3 separate regions of the Homo sapiens genome follow, and all the other regions are linked to region 1. Evidence: fine-mapped expression QTL. Tissue or cell type: whole blood. Region 1 holds a variant in brackets; each other region holds the start of a gene. All regions are shown on one strand. Distances are between the middles of the regions.

The links. PIP is the estimated chance that this variant, and not a neighbour inherited with it, causes the effect.
Region 2: it holds the start of PLXND1, and the variant in region 1 is fine-mapped to the expression of PLXND1 in whole blood (TOPMed, PIP above 0.99).
Region 3: it holds the start of MBD4, and the variant in region 1 is fine-mapped to the expression of MBD4 in whole blood (TOPMed, PIP above 0.99).

Annotation. Positions count from the first base shown.
Region 1 is chr3:129,570,620-129,578,719 of GRCh38, forward strand. PLXND1 (plexin D1) reads right to left here. Exons shown (of 36, transcript NM_015103.3): 9 at 7,710-7,814; 10 at 5,147-5,236; 11 at 4,850-4,943; 12 at 3,717-3,871; 13 at 2,975-3,126; 14 at 2,223-2,322; 15 at 1,990-2,129; 16 at 1,058-1,225; 17 at 890-980; 18 at 421-684; 19 at 167-316. Among named protein-coding and RNA genes, the nearest start is that of H1-8, 31 kb to the left of the region's middle. RefSeq lists enhancers at 2,437-3,162, 6,068-6,794. The variant G/A (reference allele first, on the strand shown) is at 4,782.
Region 2 is chr3:129,603,106-129,611,205 of GRCh38, forward strand. PLXND1 (plexin D1) reads right to left here and starts at 3,571. Exons shown (of 36, transcript NM_015103.3): 1 at 2,224-3,571. The coding sequence starts at 3,534. LOC124909431 (a long non-coding RNA gene) reads right to left here. Exons shown (of 2, transcript XR_007096079.1): 2 at 6,773-7,249. RefSeq lists enhancers at 1-822, 1,815-2,807, 3,800-4,792, 4,793-5,783 and silencers at 101-395, 3,530-3,589, 3,740-3,899.
Region 3 is chr3:129,435,405-129,443,504 of GRCh38, forward strand. MBD4 (methyl-CpG binding domain 4, DNA glycosylase) reads right to left here and starts at 4,544. Exons shown (of 8, transcript NM_001276270.2): 1 at 4,326-4,544; 2 at 2,316-2,546; 3 at 1,057-1,904. The coding sequence starts at 4,429. IFT122 (intraflagellar transport 122) reads left to right here and starts at 4,820. Exons shown (of 30, transcript NM_052989.3): 1 at 4,820-4,967. The coding sequence starts at 4,927. RefSeq lists enhancers at 4,374-4,453, 4,544-4,683, 4,884-5,093, 5,244-5,293, 5,324-5,373 and 1 more.

The DNA.
Region 1 (8,100 bases):
AGTTTCCTCATATGTCAAGTGGGGATGTAAAGCTCTGCTTTGCTGGACTGAGCTGTTGAGCGTGAAAACGCTCAGTGAATTCAGGTGCTGGGTGAGGGGCAGATGCTTGGCAGATGGGCCAGGGGTGGGGCCAGGTCTGCCCTGCTCCGGCGCCCCATCCACTCACTGTGATGGGCAGCTGCCCCACGGCCGCGCCCAGGGACTCGTTGACCGAGCAGTGGATGATTCTGTCAGAGACAATCTGGATGTCGCAGCTTACTTGGCCTATCTTGACCCGGTACTCGTGACTCTGGAGCCCCAGGCTGTCCTGCTCCTTCTGTGGGTGCAAAGGGGGAGGATGCTCATGGGGAAGTGCTCCCGAGGCCCACAGCTGAGGCTGGCTCGCTTGCCCCCGCCTACCCCGGCCCCTTTGGTGCTCACGTGGATAACGAGGGTGAGAGGCTCCCCGGGGTGGTGCTTGATCCACTTCTCCCTCTTGGCCGTAGAGAACTGTGGGTTGGGGAGGTAGTCCAGGCGGAACCTGCTGCCCCGCTGTGCCTCCTCGGGGTCCAGTAGCTCCTCAGCCACAGCCACCTCGTCTGCGTAGGCCCGCCCATTGATGAAGAAGTCCACTGGCGCTGATGCGTTGCTCAGGGCCCCGGGGGACGGGCAGGTGATGAGGGTGGAGTTGAGAACCTTGCAGAGCTGGTGCAGGAGAGCCAGGGGCCCAGGCCGGGATGCAGGATGGACAGATGGGCATGGAGAAACGGTGGGGAGTGGGGTTTGAGGAGACACAGAGGCAGAGGGAGGAAGAGGGGACAGAGATGCAGTGGGAGGAGGCCTGGTCAGTTAGGGCCCTGGCTGTGCCTGGGCCACCCCCTCCCACCCATCAGGCCCCCGAATGCCTCACCGTGGGCTCCCGGCCAATGTGGTGGACGGCCATGGACACATTCTGCACCATGTGGAAACGCTCACCAGCCACTGTGATGGTCCTGCCGCCACTGCGGGGGACAGCAAAACCTATCAGTGCACCTGCAGCCCCAGAGAGCCTGGGGGAAGGGCGGGGTGCCAGTCTCACCTGACAGGGCTGCGGCGGGGACTGATGGCCGTGATGACCGGGTTCTGCATGTACCAGAAGGTGAGGTTGCCGTGCACGCAGCCCCGACGCTCGAAGCGCACACACACAGGCACCGGAGCCGGCAGGGCCCCCTCAGGCATGGTGCAGGCGATGCTGGTATCTGTGCGCCTGGGGGGAGCAGCAGGTTATCAGCAGGGCCTGCCTTCTGCTGCTCACCCACCGCCAATGCCCCTGAGACCTGGGGCACAAGTCCACGCACTTGGCCTGGGGTTCAAGGCCTCCTTGACTGGTCCCAACTCATCTTCTGCCCAGTTAGTGCCCAGCTGTTTCCTTACACTTCCAAATTCCGCCCCATCCCACCTCCTCCAGGAAGCCTTCCCAGGTCTTCTCTCCCGCCTCCAACCCTGGTGAAGTCTCTCTCCCCAGATCCCTGAAGGCACTGACTTTTCTCCCAATCCTAGCCCCACTGGATGTTCCTACTTCCCGTGGGTATGTCTGCCCTTCCCTTGAGGTCTATGTTGTGCTCCTCTTGGTGTCCCAGCAATGCCCATTAGTGGGGTCTGGTACACAATAAGTGCATAATAAAGACAAAGGTGTTTCGCCAACAGACTCCAACCACACCCCTGCCACTCACCACACCCCTGGGCCAGCCAGAAGATCTGTGTGTGTGCAATCAACACCATTCTCATTACAGCTATCACTTATGGAGCAACTACTGTATACCTGGCACAAAGCCCTTCTTCCAATTACTGGTACTATTCTTACCAGCTGAGGAAACTGAGGCTCAGAGAGGAGAAGGGGCTTGGCTTAGGGGACACAGCCAATGAAGACCCAAGAGAGGCTTGGCTCAAGGATGTCACCTCCAGCCCGCCAGCCCCCAAGCCCATTGATTTCTCTGGGCTGGAAGGGATGGGCCAGGCCCAGAGGCTTACATCAGCTCCGTGCAGGGGTCTGTGTCGTTCACCAGGACCTGGAGCTCGGAGCCTACATGGAGGTCATTCCCATGGATGGTGATCCTGGTGCCCCCGGCCTTGGGGCCCATGGTAGGCTCCAGGGAGTGGACCAGGGGCAGCTGTGGGAGGAAGGCAGGCGTTTGGGCCTCGGGCCAGCCCCCGGGAGTGTGCGTGCTGGGCGGGCCGGACAGTGGGCTGCAGCCCCCCCTTACCACGTAGGAGAAGCGGTCCCGGGACTTGCCCTCCTTAGAGGCGTTCACGGTCACCACACCTGAGAGTGGTCCTGGGGCTGGCCCTGTGACACACACGATCCTGAGGGGAGGTGCTGTGGTCAGCCAGCGGTCCTTGGCCCCCACGGCCACCCTAGAGCCAGGCTCAGGGATCGCCCCATTCCACGCCATGCCACACTTCCAATGCCTTCTATGTATAATTTACCCCATCAGTTTCCCACAGTTCTGCAACTATAAGACACGGGGGTGGGACAAAAGGGTCTCTGATCATGAGAACGTCTGCTGGGCTGGTAGATGACGGCTCTTCCACACGCCTGATGCACGGCCTCCCAAAAGGAAAGCCAGTTCAGTCTCTGCTCACGCGTATTTCCTACGGCCCCTCTGGGCCAGTCACAGATCTCTAAACCATGCCAGTAGCCCCAGCCTTTTTAATTGCAAATGATTTTCCTCAGAGCAAGGCTTAGGTGGAAGAAGGGCTGTGCTAGGGCAGCCTGTGAGGGCTTCCCAGAGGAGTGGGCATCAGAGCCAGAGCTGGAGGGATAAAGCAGATGCCCCAAGCAGAAACGGCAGGATGTGTGGTGGGAATGGCTTCGGCACAGGCCTGGAGGCCACGAAGCAACAGTCTTCCAGAAAGCAGCAGAGTGAGGACAGAGGATGGGGAGGGAGGAGTGAGGAGGACAGAGCAGAGGCTGGCACTGCTGGAGAAGGTAGGTGGGGGCACCGTGGCTACTCACTCCTCCGACACCGTGTATCTGTCAGGCAGTGGCTCACAGGCCACACCACCAATCCACACGCCGTGGGCCACGTCACTGAGCCGCCGGCCCAGGTTCCTTCCTCGGATGGTCAGCAGGGTCCCACCGTCCAACGGGCCACTCAGGGGCTCAATCTGCCAGGTGACCCGAGAGAGGGGCGAATGGGATCTGAGGCTGCAGGCCAGCAGGCTTCTGCCCACAGTCACAGGCACCCAGCAGGGCACAGCCGTGCAGACCCACTGCTTAGAGGAAGGTCTGGAGGCTCAGGTGGGGCTGGGACTGTGGCCACTTGGCAGGTCACTGTGCTGGCAAGGAGGATGTGGGTGTGCATTACTGAGCCCACGTGGGCCTGGGGACGCTACTTAGGGGGTCTCCTGGAGGATGCTGAGGTCAGCTTCCAGGAGCAATGTTTGGCCATGTCATTGGTGGCTTTAGTGATCATGGTATCCCCTGAAACTAACAACATTCAGCCCTCGGTGTCTCCTCCACGCCACACTTCCAATGCCTTCTATAATTTATTCATTTCCTTATTTATTACTGTCCACCTCCCCCACTGAAACATCAGCTCTGTGAGGCAGAGCACTTCCTTTTGTTCACAGGTGATACTGCACCCATGTGTCGGTGTATGTGCCGTTTGGGTCCCCAAGAAGTGGGACCCTCGAGGGCACTGCGCATGCGCCGTGCCGGAGTGCGGGTGCCACGTGCCTCCACTGGGCATGCTTACCGCGTGGATCTCGGGGGCGGGGCAGGTGCCAGCCATGGGCTGCAGAGGCCCCCGCAGGCGGCAGCCATCACTCCACATGCACAGGTGACCCAGGTCTTCGCGGCCCAGGCACTGGGAACAGTCGGGGCTGCCCATGGCACAGTTATAGACCATGACTGGGGAGACACGGGGCAGCTCGGTCAGCCCCGCTCTGCGGTGCATGCCCCAACACCGCTGTGCCCTCCACACACAACAACTGTCAAGAGGTCTGCGCCCCATCATTGTGGTGCCCCACCCAGAGGAAGTCCTGATTCTGGGGGTCAGGATCCCCTGAGGTTCTTAGCCCCTTCCCCAAACCCCTGGGGCCTGTGCTGAGCACAGTGCAGCCCCTGCTTCATTGATTTCCTTCCCCTCACAGAGACTCCAGCTGGGAGCCTCAGGTCAGCCTCACTTTACAGAGAAGAGGCTGACGCTCAGACAGGAGGGACTCGCCTGAGCTCACGAGGCCTGTGGGTGGTAAAGCCAGATCCCACCCAGACCTCAGTGGGTCTGATCAACCCCGGCGGGGCCCTAGGATGCTGGGGATCCCTGAGTAATGTGGACTATGAGTACTTTGGGGCTTCAAACCCTCCAAGTAGCCCAAAGAGGAGGGCAGGGAGGGTTCTCCAGGACCTTGGGTATGCAGGGCCGTTCTGGGACCTTCATGGTGGGAATCTGGAGGGCACCACGTCCACCAGGGATGCCTGAGACTCCCCATGAACAGAGGAGCCCCTGGAGAGTGGACCCAACACAGACAGTCACAGCAACTGCACAGCTGCCACGCGAGGGGAGCTGACCACACCCCAGATGCCACGCTCAAGGTTGGGCGAGCCCTGGCTCATCAGGTCCTTACAAGCTCTGCAGAGGGACTGTGTCCTGTTTCCTATGGGGACGATCAGGCCCAGGAAGGCAGGGGAAACTATGCACGGAGACCCCAAGGCCTGGAGCCTGGCATGGCATGGCAGGGCTGGGATATGAGGCTGTGTGTGTGCTGGAGAACAATGGGGTGGGACATCTGCGGCTTTGGGGCAACCACTGGAATGAGTC[G/A]CACAAGGCTGAGCCCCACCCACTGCACTGAGGCCCCGAGGCCATGTGGGGCGGGTGGGGGTGCCCACCTGTCATGGGCTCAGGGCTGTCCAGGAATCGGGCTGGCCGCCCCTTTAGTTGGAGGCTGAGCGGGAACACCTGGCTCTTCCGGGTCGTGTGCAGCTGCAAAAGGGCAGAAAAGAGCATAGGGGGCATGGGCAATGCCTGGGGCTCTGCTGGGGATGGGTGTCATGGAGGCAGATGAAGTTGGGGCTGCTGGGGATGGGGGAACCAGAAGGTAGAGAGAGGCAGGGTGGGGTGAGGGGTACAGCATCTGGACTTAACGCAGGCCCGCCCTCCGCCCATGCTGGAGTCACCCCACTCACCACCACCTGGTCACAGCGTACAACAGACTCATTCACCCACACAGCCTCGAAGATCTCCTCCAGCCCAAAACTACACTCCAGGGCTGCACCCTGTGGGAAACAGGGAGTGGGAGGCGGGTTTGAGGAGAACCAAGCCAGCATGCATTGCCCTCTAACTCCAGCAGGACACCACGGGCTCCTGCTGGGAAAGGTGGGCTTGGTCGAACTGTCAGGCCTTTGCATGGGCTGTCCCGTCCCCCAAAATCCCCTTCCTGGCCATCACGTCCAATGTTTGAGGGAGGCAAGCAGTGCAGGAATGCCAAGAACTTTGGCCTCATGCGCTCAGCACCACTAAAAGCCTCTCCAGCATCCCCAGTGATCTAACCCAGGGGCCTTGTATTCAGCTCCTAAGGCTCCACTCCCAGCGGGGTTCCCCTGCTCTTCGAGCCTTCCCACCTCCCATCCTGCCCTACCAGGCCCTGCTCAGACGTGCCCCAACGCCCAACACGGCCAGACTCTCCTGCCCCGGCCTTTGCCTGAGCCCTCCCCTCGCCTGAACACCTGTCTTCCTTTCTACCACCCAGCAAAGCTCAACACAGCCTTCAGGATCCAGCTTAAAAGCCCCCTGTTCTGAAGCCTTCCCAGATGCTGCCCTCAAATCAAAGGGGTGTGCCTCACTTGATCCTCATTCATTCCCTCAGCAGCAACTATTCAGGTGTCTGCTGGGGCACTACGAAGCTCCTAGAGCTGCCCCCATCCCTGTGTGCCAGGCATCACCCTTAGCCTCTTGCCTGGCTGCTTACCTGTCCCCTCGCCAACCGGGGACGGTCAGGGCTCGGCCGCTCTGACACCACCCCCAAGGGCAGCAGAAAGCAGCTGGAAGAGCCCTGGCCTGGGTTCAAACCCCACCTCTGCATGTCCCAGCTATGTGACCTCATGCAAGTTGACCCCTTCTCTGAGGCTTGGTTTTCCTACCTGGACAATGGGAATAGGGTTGCTGGGAAAACTGGAGATTGTGTACCTCAAGGGGCCGCACACGGTAGGGGCCTAATATGTGCTTGCTATCATTAGTATGCAGGAGGTATCCAATAATGTTTGTGTCATGAGGCTCAGTTCCCCAGGCTCATCTGGCCTTCTCAGGAGCAGCACCAATACATATTTGCTGAGTAAACAGACTCAGGTTTTGTGTATTACGCCAAGCACCCAGCCAGCTGCGTGGCAGAGCTTCCTGTTTATGTCCCTGTGGCTGGCAGATGTGACACCCTGAGGAGAATGCAGGTCAACCTCCCTGCTTCTGGGGTCCCAGCCCGGAAGCTAACACAGGAAAGTGGCTGCTGACGGGGCCAAAAGCCCGTTTTGTCCCCTGCCATGCTGAGCTGGAGATGGGTCCCTCCTCTTAGTCCTCAGCCACCTCAGAACAGCACACCCGGCCCGTCCCAGAGCTCCCCAGGGTGTAGGCTCAGCAAACAGGCCCCCACCGCTGGGCCTGACTTCAGTGTTCTAGGAGCAGGCCCTGGGGAGCAGGAGGGCAGGCGCCCCTGCAGCTCGGTCAGAGTGGAGGCTGCCCCACCACACAGCTGGGAAGAATCGGCAGGACTCAAGTCAGGCTCACACCTCCCCATCCCAGGCGCCCACGGCCCAGGGGCAGAGCCATCCTGCCCACCCACCCAGCCCCCTGGCTGATCCTGGAGGCGCTTGCCCCAACTCCTGCAGGGTGGGGCTTGAGGGCTGAGGGCAGGCCCCACCCTAGCCCTCCCAGAGCTCCAGCCCCTGCCACGAGGCTTCCCGACACATCCCAGATGCCCGGCACGTGGCCACCACGTGTGACAGCTCTCACGGGCCTCAGCTCCTCCATGGAAGTAACAGATGGCGAGTTCCAGGGAGGTGGGGAGGGGGGTGGCTGGCACGCCTCCAGGACTCGTCAACGCTTCCCACCCAGGACGCGCCTCCAGGAGGGGTCCAGAAAGGAGCTGCGTCCCCAACCCCCAGCCCAGATGGTGGGGGCGGGGCTAGTTGCAAAGACGAGCACTGGTTGGGGAGTCCAGAGCTAAGCACAAGTCCAGCCCTGTGTTGTGTGATCTGGCGTCATCTACTTTTCCTTCCTGGGCCTCATCTTCCCCATCTGGACAATGGGGAATGGGGTGGCCAAGGGGTTCTCTGGTCATTCTGCAGGGAAGACATGGAAGCCACCCACGGGGCAGTGGGCTCGGCGGTGGGTGGGTGTGTCCAGGGTCACAGCTCAGGCTAAGGGAGGACAGGATAGGGCAGCGTCCACCCTCCGGCTGTGGCACGGGGCAGGAGAGCCTGGGGGCACTGGCTTTCCCTTGGCAGCTGTTGGCCCCCAGCTGTCCCCCTTGGCCTGGCCCTCACCACTTCCTCTTCTTGCAGCCCCGTGCAGTCAGAGTGGGGCTTCCTCATGCAGAAGGTGGAAACTCAGAGAAAGAAAAGCAAAGCCCACACAGGTGCGAAAGCACTGCAGTGGGCCCAGAGCAGGGGTCACACCAGGACATGGGGGCAGTTAGTGGCCTGCGTGCTCCCCGGCCTCCTCCTGGCCCCACCCGGCGCTGGCCTGGCTTCTACTTACCTGGAAAAAGGCAGTGTTGGCCAGAGGCACCAGGATGTTCTGGGAGCCACCCGTAGGCACGGGTGCCAGGGGTGAGAGCAGGGTCCGGGGGCAGTCCTGAGGGCTCTGCAGAGGAAACAGAAGGAGAGGGTGACACAGGGGCATTTCAGAGAAGAGGCAGGAGGACTCACTGCACCCCAGCCTGCCTGGTTCAGTCCTGCCTTCCTGAGGAGAAAACACTAGTCATTCAGTCCTAACGGCCACCAGCCCCACCCCGTGCCTCCCACTCGCCACCACCCTCCATCCTATGGGCAGGTCGCATTGGCCCTGTTTAAAGATGAGGAAGGTGGGCACAGGCAGATGGCATAACCCGCCCAGTGGTGGGGCCAATTTCCTCCATGAGTGCTCCCTG
Region 2 (8,100 bases), 32 kb after region 1:
TACTGCCAAGTGGCACTGGCCTGTGCCCACAGCGGGCACGGCGAAGAGGAGAAGGGTGTGGAAAACACAGGGAGGGTGACCAAGGAAGGCCGCAGCCGGAATCTGTGGCCTTGGGGTGGGGAAGAGGCCCTTCGCCACTCTGTCCTGGGGCTGTGTCCCTGGAGAGGCCCTGTCCCCTTAGGTAGAGAAGCTCCAGCCCCCCTCAGCTGGGTGAGTCACTGCACCGAGGGAGCGGACCGTGGGAACCAGAATGGTTCTTGCCAGAGGGGGAGGGAACCCTGGGCTGGCCTAAGGAATCCCACAGATCAGCTTACACCAAAGGGCCGAGACACAGGGCCTGAAACTACTGGAGGAAGGCCCTCAGTCCACAGGACACTTCTCTCCATTCAGCGACTCCCCACTGAGACCCCCAGTGCCAAACACAGTTGCCTGCGAGATGAAGCTCTGGGGTGGAGATGGTGGATGAACCAACCATGGCACAGGGCAAGCAGCCCCACCACCCTTTGGACTGTCTGCCCTGCTCACCCACCGTGACCTTTACTTTCAGGGTGGCCGGCCAGATGGTGGGCAGTCGTGGGAGACCGACCTCGACCTTGGGAGAAGGAATCTGCATTTTCTCAAAGCCCCAGTGTTGGGCCCGCCCACAGAGGAATGGTTAATCTCATGAAATTCTTGTCACAGCCATGGAGAAGGGACAGGGTGGGGCCCCAAGGAAGGCTTGGGTCACCACAAGAAGGCTGAGTTCTGCATTTTGCTGATGGAGATGCAGCTTCCTAAGGGAATGGCAGGCAGTGGAGCTGAAGTGGGCTCGCCAGACTCAGATGGGTGGAGGGTGTGGGAAAGGCCCCAGTGTCATTCTGGGGCCTCATTCCTCAGGGTGAACTATGGGGATCAACAGACCCAGCTCCCAAAGCCAGTGTGAGGAGCAATCCCTTGCCATGAACTTCCTTTCAGGGAACCACACCAAGTCCCCTCCCGCACCCTTGTCATGTCAACACACATGCTGATTCCGTCAACCTGGCCCCCCTTGCTACTGCCCAACCCAGCCTCAGACACCTGGGCCCCATGCCTGCCTGTACTCCTCCTCATTCCCCACTGAGCCCCACGGCCCTCTCCTGCCCCCAAAACACCCCTGTTCACATCCCTCCATTCTCCTGGCCCTGGCATCTGCCCACCCCAGCTGCCTGGGACGCCCCCAAAACACACGCACTCTGAGATCCAAGTCCAGAAGGCAGCAAAGGCTGGGCATTAAAAACACAGATGCTGAGGCCAGACAGGCTGGATTCAAATCCACCTCTGCTAGTGCCCAACTGTGTGATCCTCAGCAAGTTGCTTAACCTCTCTGTGCCTGTTTCTTCATCTGTAAAATGTGATGAGAATAGAGGCTACCTGAGAGGGTTGTTCTGAGAACTGGGAATTGTGACATGTGATGCCCCTAGCTGGCACTCCACAAGTGCTATTGTTTACCCCAGACTCCCACACCTGGTACATACTAGGTGCTCAGGAAATATTTGCAGAATAGGTGAATAAAAGTTGGCCTCAGGCACACACCTGTTTGCCAACCATGCAGCCTCCTCAGAGTACCGACTCATGCCCAAATACCTGCGTCCCCTGCCACGCACATCCCACTGCACACCTAGCCCTGTCCCGTTGTACCAGTGTCTGTGCAGTACACCTGTCTGCCCTGTGCGTCTTCAGGCCCCAGCTTGCTGGCACACAAGTCCATGCAGACATCTGCAGGGCCCTGGTGCACACCTGTGTGCCTCCTTGCACACCTGCCACACCCATGCACCCATCACCAACGTGCAATGGTAACTCTGACAGGCTCACGCAGTGGCCCCAGAACACAACTTTGGTCAGGCATGCAGTCACTTACTGCGCCCTCAGCATGCACCTGTGACCCTCACGTGCATACCTGGGCTTTATGCGCACCTGGGTACCTGTGGCAACTTGGACCCCTCCCAGTACGCCTAGGTATGCGCGCCCATGAGCCGGCACTCACTTGAGTCCCTGCACATGCCCACCTGGGCCATACAGGCGCCAGTAGTACCCCTCGGGGGACACCTGTATTCTCGCGTGCACACCTGGGTTCCACGTACATCTGGATCTCTGCGCGCTCCCACCTGTGACCCACTCAGCTCACGACCCGCTCGGTTCCCGCCCGCCCCCGCCCCCGCCCCCGCCGCCGCCGCCGCCGCCGCCGCCGCCACCGCCCGGGTGTACCTGGATGTTGAGCTTGCGCTCACAGGCCGGTCCCGTGCCCTGCACCACGCTGTCGAGCACCGCCACCACGTCGGGCGCCGGTTCCACGAAGCAGGCGGTGCGCGCAGCTCGGATGGCGGCTCGCACGTCGGCGAAGCGGAAGGCGCAGAGTGCGGCCGGAGCAGCGCGGGCCGCGGGGGACCCCTGGGGCCGCTCGAAGACAGCAAAGAGCCGCTCCCGGGCTGGGAAGACCGACACCAGGCGGCTGTAGAGGTCGCCGCGGCCCGCGCCGCCCGCGCACTGCAAGCCCAACTGGATGTAGGACTCGGTGAGCTTCTTGGCGTCGCCGCCGGCGCCGTGGGGCAGGCAGATGCGCGCCAGCAGGCTCCGCGCCTGGCTCTCCTTGTCGCCCGCGCGCGCCTCGCTGTTGAGCGCCAGGTACGCGTAGGACTGTGCACCCGGCGGCGGGTCGGACGGGTGCAGGAAGGCGCTCACGAAGCCCAGCTTGTGCTGCTCCTTGGCGCCCTGCTTGATCTTGAGGATGTTGTCGTCGGAGGGGTTGAGGTCGAAGGTGAAGAGCTTGGCCAGGTCGCCGCGCGTGTCCAGGGAGCGGATGGCGATCTCGGGCGTGTTCTCGAAGCGGTGGTCCTCCAGGCTGCGGTTGCGCGGGAAGAAGGAGCTGCCGTAACCGGTGTACGTGGCGCCCACGAGCAGGCGGCTGCCCCCCGCGCCCGCGGCGGGAGGCAGAACTAGCCCCACGGTGGACGCGTTCGGGTGGTTGGCCGCCACGTTCAGCATGCTGGGGAACACCGTGACGGGCTCGGCGGGCGGCGCGGCGGGCGGGAAGCGCACGGCCACGGCCGAGATGTTGCCCCGGCGCCGCAGCTGGCAGAAGCCCTGGTAGATGGACCCGCACACGACTACCAGGCCCTGGCCGGGGTCCAGCTGCAGGATCTTGTTGTAGTTGTCCGTGAGGCGCCGCGGGTGCTCGCACGAGGCCTGCGGCAGCTGCGGAGCGTGACACAGCGGGCTGTCGGGCACCGGGCCCACGGCCGCCTCGGCCTCCAGGCTCAGGTTGGCGCCCGACAGCTGATAGAGGCGGTTGACGGCCGCCAGGTACACGGTCCCCGCCGCGCCGTCCAGGGCGAAGTTGTTGGTGGGCGTGGGCGAGGGGAACCGACGCTGGATCTCCAGGGCGCCGGCCCGCGCCGCCCCCAGGAGCAGCAGCAACAGCAGCGGCACCGGGCACCGCGGCGGCGTCTGGAACGGCGGGGGGCTGGCGGCGGCGGCCCGGGCGCTAAGGGGTGCGCCGCCCGCGGCGCGAGGAGCCATCCGGGCGTGCGCGGGCTGCGCGGCGCGGCGAGTGCATGGGGCGAGGCGCGGCCGGGAGCCGGGAGCCCGGAGGCGGCGGGAGGCGGGGGGCGGGCCCGGGCCGCGATGCGCTTCCTGCCCGCGCCAGCCGCCCCCGACCCCGGCGCCCGGGCCCGGGTCAGCCTCGCCGCGCAGCCCGGGGGCGGGGCGGGGGCGGCTCCGCTGCGGACACGCCCTCACTCCCCGCCCCGGCCCCGCCCGCCCCCGGGACCCCCGCCTGCCCCTGGCCGCCCTGGGCCACGCCCCGCCGTCCGCGGGTCCCGCCGCCCGCGCCCTCCAGGACCCGCCCGCGGCCCCAGGGTCCCTCCCCGTAGCCGCCGCCGCCGTCGCTCGCTCTCCTCGCTCTTTCCTCCCACTTGGCCGCTTGGCCTGCCTCGCTCGCGCCTGTTTTCTCTTTTCCGCCCTCTCCCCCACCCCGTCTCTCCCTCTCTCTGCGTCTCTCGGTCTCTGCGTCTCTCCGTCTCTGTCCCCACCCCAAACTCCGCGCGTGTGGCGCTTCTCCGGGTTCTGCCTCTGCTTCTCCTTCTCCCTCCGACTCCGCTTCGCTCTCCAGTCCCTGGCAGCCCCGCCCCCGGCCCTTTCTAGTCTCCTTCTCTCTCCTGCTCCGTTTTTCCGTCCCTGACGCTCGCTCCCTCTCTCCGTGGCTCCCTCTGCCTCCCCCTCGGACCCTCCGTCCCTCTCTCGGTCCCTCTGAGCTCCCCTTTCCTTCTCCCTCTGCCTTCCCGAACCCTGTGTCTCCCCTCCACACTCAGCCTCCCTCCACCACCTTTCTCAGGCACTGTCCAGGCCTTCGCTCCCCCGGTGCCGGCCAGTCGGGCCCCCCAGACCCCATAATCTGTCCCCCAAACCCCAGACCCATAAAAGGGATTTACAAGTGGCAGGGCCAGAGGGACCAGTGCTCAGGGTCAGATATATAAATGAGGAAAACATGGAGAGAGGAAATAGTTCCAGCCAGTGGCCCACAACCGATAGCCAGAGCAAGGCCTTGGTCCTGGAGCCCACAGTTGCCTCCTGTGGAGACCCAGCCGCACCCCCACCCCTGGCACCCCCGCCAGGCACTTTCCCTGACATCCTCCCAGGCTTAGTGGAAGATTAGTCCCACAAAAGCCGGCACTGGGCAGGGTTCTTGATCTCAAAAGCAGCGTTAGGGGCAGGCAGCCTGGTTCCAAGGTCACAGCCCTGTGAGGACCATGCGCCGTGGCTGTTTTGCGGGGGTGCTCACACAGGGCTAGCCCGTGCCAGACACTGTGCCAAGCACTTGCCATGTACGGGCTCTCTTTTTCCTCACAGATTCCCCCGAGGCGAGCGCTATTGGTAACCCATCTTCCAGATATGGAAACCAAGGCTGAGGGGAAGGGACTGGCCCAAGATGCACAGCTCATGAGGAGCAGAGCTACAGTGTTTGAAAGCAAAAGCCCTTCAGCTCCGACCTCTCAGAACGGGGCCTCCCATCAGACCCCCAGCTTCCACAGGGTGCCCGGTGGGCCTCACTCTGAGAGTAGCGGGACCTCATTTTCCTCTTTCCCACCCAACCAGGAAGGAAGGGCAGGGGTGTCTGTGCACCATGGGGCCGGCAGGAAAGGCTGGGCCTGCAGCCGCCCCCCACTTCCCTCAACACCCTCGCCTTCCTGCCATCCTGCCCGCCTTGTTCCAGACCCCTCAGCCCTGGTCTGGCCACTGCTTTGATGGCCGGGAGTGTTGAGCTGCAGGAAATTGGAGGCCCCCTCCCAGGCCCATCCACCCACCAAGAGCCACTCAGGGGACTGCCCGTGGGACTGTGTCCCTGTCTTCCTCTCTGGATGGAGAAGGCGCACATCGTGCCACCCGTGGGGGCCAACTGCAGAGCCCAGCAGGGGTGCATGGGGCCTGCCTCCATGCCCCTCCTCCTCACTCACATCCTCAGTGCCCCCACCCCAGTCCATCCGCTGGTCTCTCTGTCTTATCTCTCTCTCTCCTGCCCCCACCCATCTCTGTTCCTATCTGTCTTGCTCCTCCCGTTCACTCTCTTTGTCTCTCCTTCTCTCAGTGTCTTGCCCCCTTCCCTTTCCACTCTTCATCTGTCTCTCTGTGTCTCTATCTCTGTCTCTCTCTCTGTCTCCCTCCCTATCCCTCACCCCCACTCCCTCTCCAGCCCCTCCTCTCTTCCTTCCTGTCTCCCGCTCATCTGGTTCATCTTGCTGCATCCTGCAGCTCCCCCCACTGAGCCGTGAGGATAATGCTCAGTGTTGTCTTAGACCAGCCTGTGGTGATGATCCTGGGCACTTGGGACACAAGCTCCCTGCCAAGCTGAGCAGTGGGGTTTAGGAGCTCTCTAGGTGAAGGGTATTCGGGTCTGAGTATCCTCACATCAACTGGAGGTGAGAAGTGCTGTGTGGTCTTGTGCAAGGCACTCACCCTCTCTGAGCCTCAGTTTCCTCAACTGTAAAATGAGGACAATCGTAGCAGAACACCTGCCCCTGGGAGGGTGTGAGATGGAGAATATAACATAACAGGTGTCAAGCACAACAAGGCTCTTAGCAAACACCAGTTTCTCCCCGCCTTGTGGCAGTGAACCATGACCCCTGAAGCCCATGTTAGAGCCAGGAGTTGGGGTGGGGGGCATTGCAACTAAAGACCAGGGCTCCACCTCCTGTCCTGAGCCCCAATGTGGCTAGCAGAGCCACCAGACGGTGAGAGTGAATCCTGTGCCCAGCACTGCCCTACCAGATCTTACACCATCCTTGCAGCCAGCTGACTAGGCTGTGGTCAGCAAACCCATTTCACAGATGGGGAAACTGAGGGGCATTAGCAAGGTAAGGATTGAAACCCAGATCTGGCTCCACATCTTATGATTTCTCCCTTCTACCCATTAGCTGGGAGCACCATCAGGCCAGGATGGCTCATGGTGGCAGCCCCTATACCCCTGGCTGGGCAGAGGAGGTGCTGACAATTACTGGCTGAATGAATGAATAAAGGAAGGAACAAACCACACCTTCCCTGGCCTTACTAAGATGCAATGAGGTGTTCTTCCAGAGGGAATTTTGGAGGGAACCAAGGGGAGATGAAAGGTACTCAGGAGTGGGGATTAGGTGGGACCCAGCAATAACTAACTTGGAATGAACTAACCCAGAATAGCCAGACCTAGTTGGTTATTCACACTGCAATTTGGGCCTTTTTCAGTTTTTGTTCAAGTCTGATTATATCAAGGAAAAGGTCTTGGTTTGAGGCTAACATGTCTTTAATGACTGTAACATTTGTCACTGTCTCTTTTTAATAGAGAGAAGGTCTCAAACTCAGGGCTGTTGACATCAGCGTGCTAGAATGTACTGATAGCGCTTTGTTTTCTTTGTACTTGCCGTTACTTTCTGGTTTTGGCAAGTGCTACTGGTTTTCCATGTACAGTAATGATGTAAAGCTTCCTTGATAAATGCATTGATTGAAGTCCTTTAAAAGTGAGTTAAAGACAAATGTGAAATAGGTGATAATCCAGATGCCACCAAAATGCCTGAAATTTGGGAAATGTCCAGCAGTGCCTTTGAAGACGAGGACCTGGTGGCCGAGTCAGGGCAGTCTTGCTTGGGGCACGGTGGTCAACGGCTATGCTGGCTCGGAGAAGGCGGGCCTGGGCCTTCCACCCCACTGGGTGGGCTTCCCACCCTGTCCTGTCCATTCTCACCTCTGACTGCCCAGGGCAGAGCTGTGAGGAGACAGAGGAAATGTTTTTCTTCTTCAATTGGAAAAAATAACAGTGGGGCCAGGGTTGCGCTGGGAGGAGGGGGCTCCTGCCCTCCCGTCCCTTGGGCCTGGCCTCTGAGAACGTTTCCTTGCAGGAAATGCCCCTGCAAGGTTAATGCTTTAGAGCACCGCCTCAGCCACAGGAAGGTGCTGGAAACAAGAGTCCTAGGGACGGCTTGGCAATCCAGCCATGGGCCTAGGTGGTGCCGGGAGCCATCACTGCTGCTTCTCGGGGGCTGGACCCGTCTCATTTCCCCGTGGGAGCAACCCTGCGGGGGGGGTCTTAGCAACCCCCCTTTTTTTTAAATTATACTTTAAGTTCTAGGGTACATGTGCACAACGTGCAGGTTTGTTACGTTTGTATACAGGTGCCATGTTGGTGTGCCGCACCTATTAACTCGTCATTTACATTAGGTATATCTCCTAATGCTATCCCTCCCCCTCCCCCCACCCCACGACAGGCCCCAGTGTGTGATATTCCCCATCCTGTGTCCAAGTGTTCTCATTGTTCAGTTCCCACCTATGAGTGAGAACATGCAGTGTTGGTTTTCTGTCCTTGCGATAGTTTGCTCAGAATGATGGTTTCCAGCTTCATCCATGTCCCTACAAAGGACATGAACTCATCCTTTTTTATGGCTGCATAGTATTCCATGGTGTATATGTGCCACATTTTCTTAATCCAGTCTATCATTGATGGACCTTTGATCAACCCACTTTTGCAGATGGGGACACTTAAGGTCAGAGTGGTGTGCCACTGGCCTGCAGCTGCACAGCCTCCAGGCGTCCAGGCCCTGCTCTCAGCCGCTGCATCCC
Region 3 (8,100 bases), 140 kb before region 1:
CATGTTGAGAACTAGACTCTTACCACAAAAAAAAGTTTTTAATATTTGCCCATTTTGCTAGCAATAAATCTACATAAACCTCAAAGCTTTCTTCAAGAAGCTCAGTGTCTAGGACACAGACTTGAAGAATTCTTATGCAGTTCCTAGGTATATATGGCCATCTTGTGTTAAAGGCAGAGAAACTCCAGGCACAGAAAAGACATAAAATCATGGGTAGAACTGGGAACAAGAATCAAACCTAATCTCCTGCTTCACAAATTTCTCCAGGCTGTTTCCCCACAGGAGTTTAAGTAAAATTATTATTCTTTAAAGGAGTTATTCATTATACCATAATGGCATAATGAATAACTAATACAGGGCTGCTCAAAAGGTCTCCCTTTTATCTCTTATTCACTGAGGTATTATAAAGACAAAACTGCTAAGTTCTGAATTCTGTATTAAGAGCATATTACAAATAATAGATGAACTATGTGATTATACTTTTGAATTATTTAGAGCTCTAAAGCATTTTAGAGAAGCATTACATTAAAATAGAAGATAAAAATGACTATGATATATACAAAATTAAATTGGAAGTCACACTTAGTAGTAAGTATCAGGAGGGGTGTGAAGACACCAACTATTCTCCACTCATTTATGTATATAAGAAGCCTTCCCTAAATTTTTCACAAGTGAAGGCTTTTAATTTTCCTTCAAGTTTTAAGATTACTGGCTGGAAAGAGGATGGGAAGAAGGGAAAGCACTGCTGAGGAGGAGAGTCCCAGCTGCTGCACCAGGGAGAGACGATGGCAGCTGTTAATAGTAATACTCTCCTTTGCCATGGCATCACGACAGCAGTCAGCCGATTTTCTCTCTGCCATAGGAAACTGCTTGAATATCAGTTTAAGATAAAGTATTAGGATCAACTGGTATCTCATATTTGGCCCTATTTCTTGGCTCTATTTTCACATCTTAACCATGTATGGGCACGAATACAAGATGCAGCATTATAAATTTCTCATCACATAATGTTTAATAGTGCTTGAAAGCACTGGATACCTTGAAATATTTTCTCACCAGTGAAGTCTTTCCTGGTTGGTGAGCAGTTGTTGTCCATTTCAGAGCCACGTTTTAAAATGTCAGTATGCAAATGTTCTTTCCTTTCCACAACTTCTACTTTTGTTCCGATTTCTTCAGATTCTAAAAAGGTATCCTCATACTTCTCGTTGTGTTCTGAGTCTTTGGCTGAACAAAATTTGTTTATGATGCCAGAAGTTTTTTGTTCAGAACAAAAATTTGATCCTGAACTCAATGATCTTTCTTTTTTTTTTACAAGGCTGTTTTCTTCACTGGTCACACTGAGGGTCTCACCACATGCTCCAGCATCAGAAATGCAGACAGTTCTATCAAGCTGACTTTTTTGTGCAACAGGTTCACTTTCAGCATCTGCTTTATTACACACAGATTCTCTTTTGCTATCACTTTGAACAAAACCTGAACAGCTCTTCCTACATCCTTTTTTAGTTTTCTTAATTGGGATTCCTTTCAAAATAGTCACCTTTCCTTTGGGCTTTCTAACCTTTCTGAAGTTAACATCATCAACACCCTCATCTTCTTTCAAAAGCAAATGAGTGGAAGTAAAGTTAGAGAGTCCTCTGCTCTCCTGCAACTCTGAACTACTACTTGGCGGCATAAACACATCCTTTTTGCACTTGCTTCGGGTCCTGAGGTTCCAGTTTGAATTGTTACTTTGGTTTTGTAGATGGGATGTCAGGGCTGCCATGCTGCAGTCTTTATATCTTGACTTGATACCCCTTTTAGAAAGTACAGTAAAATCAAAATCTTCTGGCTTAAGAGAAGTCTCTCCATTTTTGTGAAGATAATTAGCAAGTGAACTTTTGGATCTGAACTTCAGTCCTTGTGGGCTAGAAAATGATATTAAAGGAAACTTACTGCTAGTAAATAGAAGGGACTTTTAAAAGAACTGGACCACATTTCAGATTTCTAATTAATTTCCAAATGTTGCCATAGGTATCTGTCATTTAAAAATGAAAAAGAGTGATAAATGGCACTTTTAAATGGTTTCCTCTATGACAATATAAATTTATAAATATAACTAAAATGCAACCTACCCGTTAACCATTCACAGAAGGAGGGACAAAATGTATGTAATTTTCCCCAAATCACTTGATGTAATTAATAGCAACATTGAAAGAATAGAATCTGCAATGGTTTTATGGTAAAAATATAAAGAAGCTAAGATTCCTGCTATGCTCCCACTACCTGCCCAGACAAAATCATTTGGCTGTACTATCTTTACCATCTTATATGCTTACCTGATAAAGTACACATCAAATCTTCCTGCTGTCTTCCCAAATAACCTTTGCTTCACAACTCTTTCCCATCCACATGGGACAGACTTACGGCATTCTGTTCCTGCAGTAGCACCAAACTGAGCAGAAGCGATGGGTTCTTGTAGCAAGGGATTACATTCACTGCTTCTTTTTATCATCATTTGTTCCTCATCTTCTCCCACTCTTTCCAATTCCATAGCAACATCTTCTTTGCTGGAAAAACAAAGTCTAAGTGATTAACTTATTTAAAATTTATCTTCCACTGCCTACTCAGTTTTAATCCATGACAATGCAGGAACCACATAGATTATCCATATTAAAATGAGGGAGATTAAAGTCAGTGTGGACCAGTCTTGTGCTATGGGAGTATTTTCCTGTCTTCCAAAAGCTTCCCATATCCTCTAGCACAGGTTAAAAGGTGTTGGAAATCTCTGCACAACAAAAAAGTCAAGCTAGAAACTTTTCGGATTAATCACTGAGTAGGGCTATTATAAAGATTTCTGGGGGCACTTACCATAAATTTGAGAATATGAACCAATAGCTAAGCTCTTAAGCACCAGAAAATGCTTAAATAAATCAGTGAGTTACACTGTCTTCTCTGCAAATAAATGAGGTAAAAGTTTTACATAATGTAAAATTTCTGGGAGAGAGTGTGTATCACTTTCATCAGATGTAATCCTCCAGAAGGTAAATAATTTGATACAGAATTTTTGAATCTTCTTCATTCTTGATCCTCATGGTAACCTTGTAGGTACAATAAGGTTTACTCTCAATTTATTGATAAAATTGAGTGACAGGTTAAATTACTTGCAGAACAGACACGAGAACCCAAGTCTACCAAATCTTGGTCTAATACTTCTCCCCCATACTGTTATTGAAAAAAGCTGGCAAGGCAAGGTGGCTCATTCCTGTAATGCTAGCACTTTGGGAGGAGGAAGTGGGAAGATCACCTGATCCCAAGAGTTTGAGACCAGCCTGGAGAGCACAGTGAGATCCTCGTCTTTGCAAAAAATGAAAAAAAAAACCCAAAAAAACAAAAAAAAACAAGCAACCGGGCGTGGTGGAGCATACCTGTGGTCCCAGCTACTAAGGAGGCCGGGGTAGGAGGACTGCTTAAGTCCGGCAGGTCAAGGCTTCAGGGAGCTATGATTGTGCCACTGCACTCCAGCCTGGGTGACAGAGCGAGACCTCATCTCAAAAAAAAACCCACTAAACTAAAACTTCATTAAAGTTCCAATGTGTCTTCTATGATGAAAACATACTTTTAAAATTAAAAAAAAAATTTCAGTAAAGTGTATCCTAATCACTAAACCACAGATTGTAAAAGGTGGATGGGTCTAGAGAGATCATTTAACCCAAGTTCTTTTCTACAAATAGGGAAACTGCAAGAACTAGAATTAGAATCAAGGTTTTCTGATGTAATTTGGGGTAAAATAATTTTGAGGAGCTGGATGGATCTTATGAAATGATATTGTTTACAATTTTAGAGATAAAAATACTGAAGCCTGGTGGAATCAGCACAAACTCTTAAGAGACTGGGGCTCAAATTCCAGCTCTACCAGCTGTAAGTTTAGCAGCAAGTTACTTAACATCTCAAAGTCTCGGTAAAAGACTCTGTAAAAAGAAGGTGATGCCTCTTTCAAAGTAGTTCTTAGTATTAAATTTTGAAAAAAGTAGGTAAATCTTAACCTCCTATCACACACGTAGTCTAATGACTTCCTAGGATCCTCCAACCCCAAGGGGACCTCTTTCACAAAACCTCCCGGCTCCCCCCCAGTCTCCCTAGTCATCTTAGATGAGGAAGTCGAGCGCACCCCAGGGCTGATCGCACAGGAAGAGCACCTGGGCTCCAGACCCTAGTAACTAAACCCGTGGGCTTCGAGGTTTCTGCCGACCCTCTGTCAAAGGTTAGAAAGGCCCACACACTGTCCACTCTCCCGATACCATTTTACAGGTGGTGAAACTGAGGCCCAAAAGGGGACAGTAACTTACCGGAGGTCATTCGGCGGGTCTGGGACTAGGCGCTCACTAGAGGTGACGGTGGGGGCAGCTCCGCGGTCCCCCAGACTCAGACTCTCCAGCCCAGTCGTGCCCATCGAGCAGGGTCCGGCTGCAGCAACGAGCCCAGCGCCGCAACGCCCAGGGTGTGGGGCGGAGTAAGATGTGAAACCTCTTCAGCTCACGGCACCGGGCTGCAACCGAGGTCTGAATGTTGCGAAAGCGCCCCAGACGCCGCCGCTGCTTTCCGGCCGCCCCCTCGGCTACAGCCGCCATTTCCACGCTCCACCAATCAAATCCATTCTCGAGGAAGACGCACCGCCCCCACACGCCCCGACCAATCGCTCGCGCTCTGGTTGCGCTGGCGCCTTAGGGGCTCCAGTGCCACCATTGCTTTTGCTGCTTTTCTGGCTTTCCCTTTCGGACATGCGCGCTCGGAGCAAGGCGCCCTCGCACTCAGCTTACCGCGCATGTACGTTGCCAGGGGTAACGCAGGTAGCCAAAGTGGCTTGTGGAGTGGCGACCGTTAGTGAGGCGGTTGCTGAGACAGACGCTGAGGCGGGTAGGAGGAGCCCGAGCCGTAAGGGAAGCCGTGATGAGGGCCGTGTTGACGTGGAGAGATAAAGCCGAGCACTGGTGAGGAGCGGGGCGGTTCGCGAAGAGCAGGAGGTCGAGTCCTCGCGGGGAGTGCGCGAGCCGCTGCAGCGTGTTTGAGGGGGGCAGCGGGCTTGCTGCCTGGGCCGAGGGCACTGAACCCCGGCCTGGGAGACTGCAGGGTCGCCCTCCCGCCCCTTGGCGGTTGGAGAAACTCCCGAGGGTTGGAGAGCGGCAAAGGGAGGTGCCGCGCCTGAGGTGGTGGCGGGTGGAGGCGGCTCTTCCCTCACGGTCTGGCCCTGTCGCTGCCTTGGATTCATCTCACACCCACGAGACAGCACGAAGCTGCTCAAGCTTCACAGTTCTTGCCACATCCACATAGTACCCATACTCTTGTTTTCTTGACGTTTTTCTCTAAATTGTCTCATTTATTTTAATTATGATTTCACATTTTACAAGGAAACTTTATTACTCCATTTATGAAAACCAGTGTCACTTGCTCTAAATGTTAAGATAAAATCAGCGTCGCTTGCTCTAAGTGTAAAAGTAAAACTTAAAGTAGGGAGAAACAAAACTGAACAAGCTGTAGCTAGCTATTGTTGCTAGGGAGCCTTTAAACCTGAGATCTCGTTTCTCTAAAACTGGAGATGGGCAGGTATGATCAGAAAGGTGCTCAAAATGAGCACCAAACACAAGCTCTCCTAATTGGGAAGTCTGAAAAAGAACTGAAGGGGAATGACTTTGTCACCTTTTGATTCAGTTATTTAATGTCCTATTCCATTGTTATCGCCTAAATCTATAACATAGCAGTCTGTTTTGTCATATTCTTACTTATGGGATAGGTCTTGGCCTGACTTTGAAAATCATTCAGCATTGTTGTGAAGCCTCTGTTCTGGCCACTGGAGCAGGTTACTTGTCTTTGGTTCTGTCCCTTCTGAGATCTTTCTCTGTGTAAAGCATGCCGTCTCTCCTCATCTCACACGGAAATCCTGAACATCCTTCAAGGCTCACGTTGGAGACGGGTCCTCTCTTTTGTGTTCGGCACTAGTGGTAGCTGACACTATGTGCCAGGTGCTGGCTAAGCACTTCATATCCTTTATCTCGTTGTGTCTTCACCACTCTCTAAGGTAGGTACTATAATTTCCTCTATTTTATGTATGAGGAAACTGAAGCCCAGAGAGGGTGGATAATTTGCCAGCGTCACACAGTGAGGGGTGGAACCAGCTTTCAAGCTCAGGTCTTCCTCACTCCAACGTCAACGCTCTCAGCCACTACATTAATTTTTCCTTATGTTACAGACGTGGCAAACTCAAATGTCTGCAGGAGACAGGCAGGTAACATAAATGGGAGATGTTTATTTGCATCTTCAACACTAGGAATTGTATGTTTTCCCTAGGAATAGTCTTGTATTCTGTACCCCATTTTTCTTGAAACACAGCCGTATCAGTGAATCTTTCATTTGTACTTTTAATAGAGATTTGAGTTTTAAAAAATCATTTTACTTTTAACTTTATTATAAACGTACCTATAGCACAAGCTGATGATAGCTGGCAACTGAACATTTGGCTTCAATGTCAGAGTAATAGAGTGTGGCAAACTGCAGAGCTCATGCTCGGCCTAAAAGGGGCAGCTGCTGCTCAGCTCCTGCCAATTACCACCATGCAGGAATTTGGCCTAGTGTGCTCAGCTCTTCCTGTTTTTACCAGAAGCTAGGAATCTGGGTTTTTATGTGAAATGGCCTAATTTTTAAATGTTAGCATCCACTCTGAAAAAAAAACAAAACACCGTGTGGGCCAAATAAAACATTTGCTGGCCGAATGCAGCCTGATTTGCTCTGTTTTCAACCCCTGGCACAGAATTTTGTTCATTTCTCTCTTGTGGTACTTCCAGAGTCTGTTGAGCATAAGAGTTAATTTTTTAAATCTGTTTAATTCAGAAGTCTAATAAACCCGTTAAAGGCAATGGCTATGTCTTACTCGTTTCCAAATTATTCTAGAGACAGGTCAGTGGTTGTTGTTACTATGGATAGTAATAAAATACTAGATATATATAAAACGAAATACTGTGGGTAGATGTATTCATACGTGAATGAATGATGAATAAAGATTGGTTTTCTGGTTTTTGGCCCATTACAGATTTGAGACAACCTATTAGGATAAGGGATGTAGGGGTTCTATAGACCATCAATCCTGATGGCTGCTAGATATACCAGCTGATAGCCCAGAATGAAAACAAAACAAAAAACTAAACAAAAAAAAAAAAGACAGTAGAACTAAAAAAATCCTAGATGTCAAAGATTAGTCCTCCACATCCAAATCAGCCATTGTCTCCCGGTCTGCTCCTTTGCTTCTATTTTAACCTTCACATAGCAGCAGGAACTCTGTTTTTTTAAGACCTGCTGCTGTGATCCTGTTACTCTACTTCTCATAAACCTAGAGTGATTCCCAATTACTTTCCATGTCAAGTCGTGCATTTTGCTAGAGGGTCCTCCTGACCCTCCTCCCCATCAGGCTTGCAACATTTAAATTTATACTTTTAGGTTGAGCTGAAAACTCTATTTTTCTACCCGAAGATCCTTCCCAAATGCTCCCTTATTCTATGAACTCCCTAGTTTTCTCCTTTAAATGCACAGCTCCAGGTTCATCTCAACCAGGATGTCTTATTAGGCTAGCCCACTGTATTCCAATCAGGCTAGCATCTGCTGTAACTCTCCATTCATGCCAGCTAGTATTTACTGAGTACTTGCTATAGGCCACATGTCCACATGTCTTTATAGGTGTTATCATGTTTAATCTCTACAACATGTGAGGTTGGAATTTTCATCTCATTTAAAGATGAAGAAATTGAGATTTAATGAGGTGACATAAGTTACCTAAGATTACAAAATGAGTAAGTGGGGCTGGGTCAGATGATGCAGGAATTGGAGAGGCACTGTGGGACATTGGTTTACAGTGAGGTGGGTGCAGGGTTGTCAGAGGACAATTTGCAGGATTCCTCTGTATCTCTGCAATGGAATCTGACAGTGTGTCTTCTGACAGTGTATCTCTTTTATAAAAAGAGGCAGGTGGAGAGAGAACCATCCTACAGTAGAATAGACTGCCTGCAAATGAGTGAGCTCCCAGCCCTGGAGTGTTCAAGCAGGGGCTAGATGGCCATCTATAAGGAATTCTTGCCC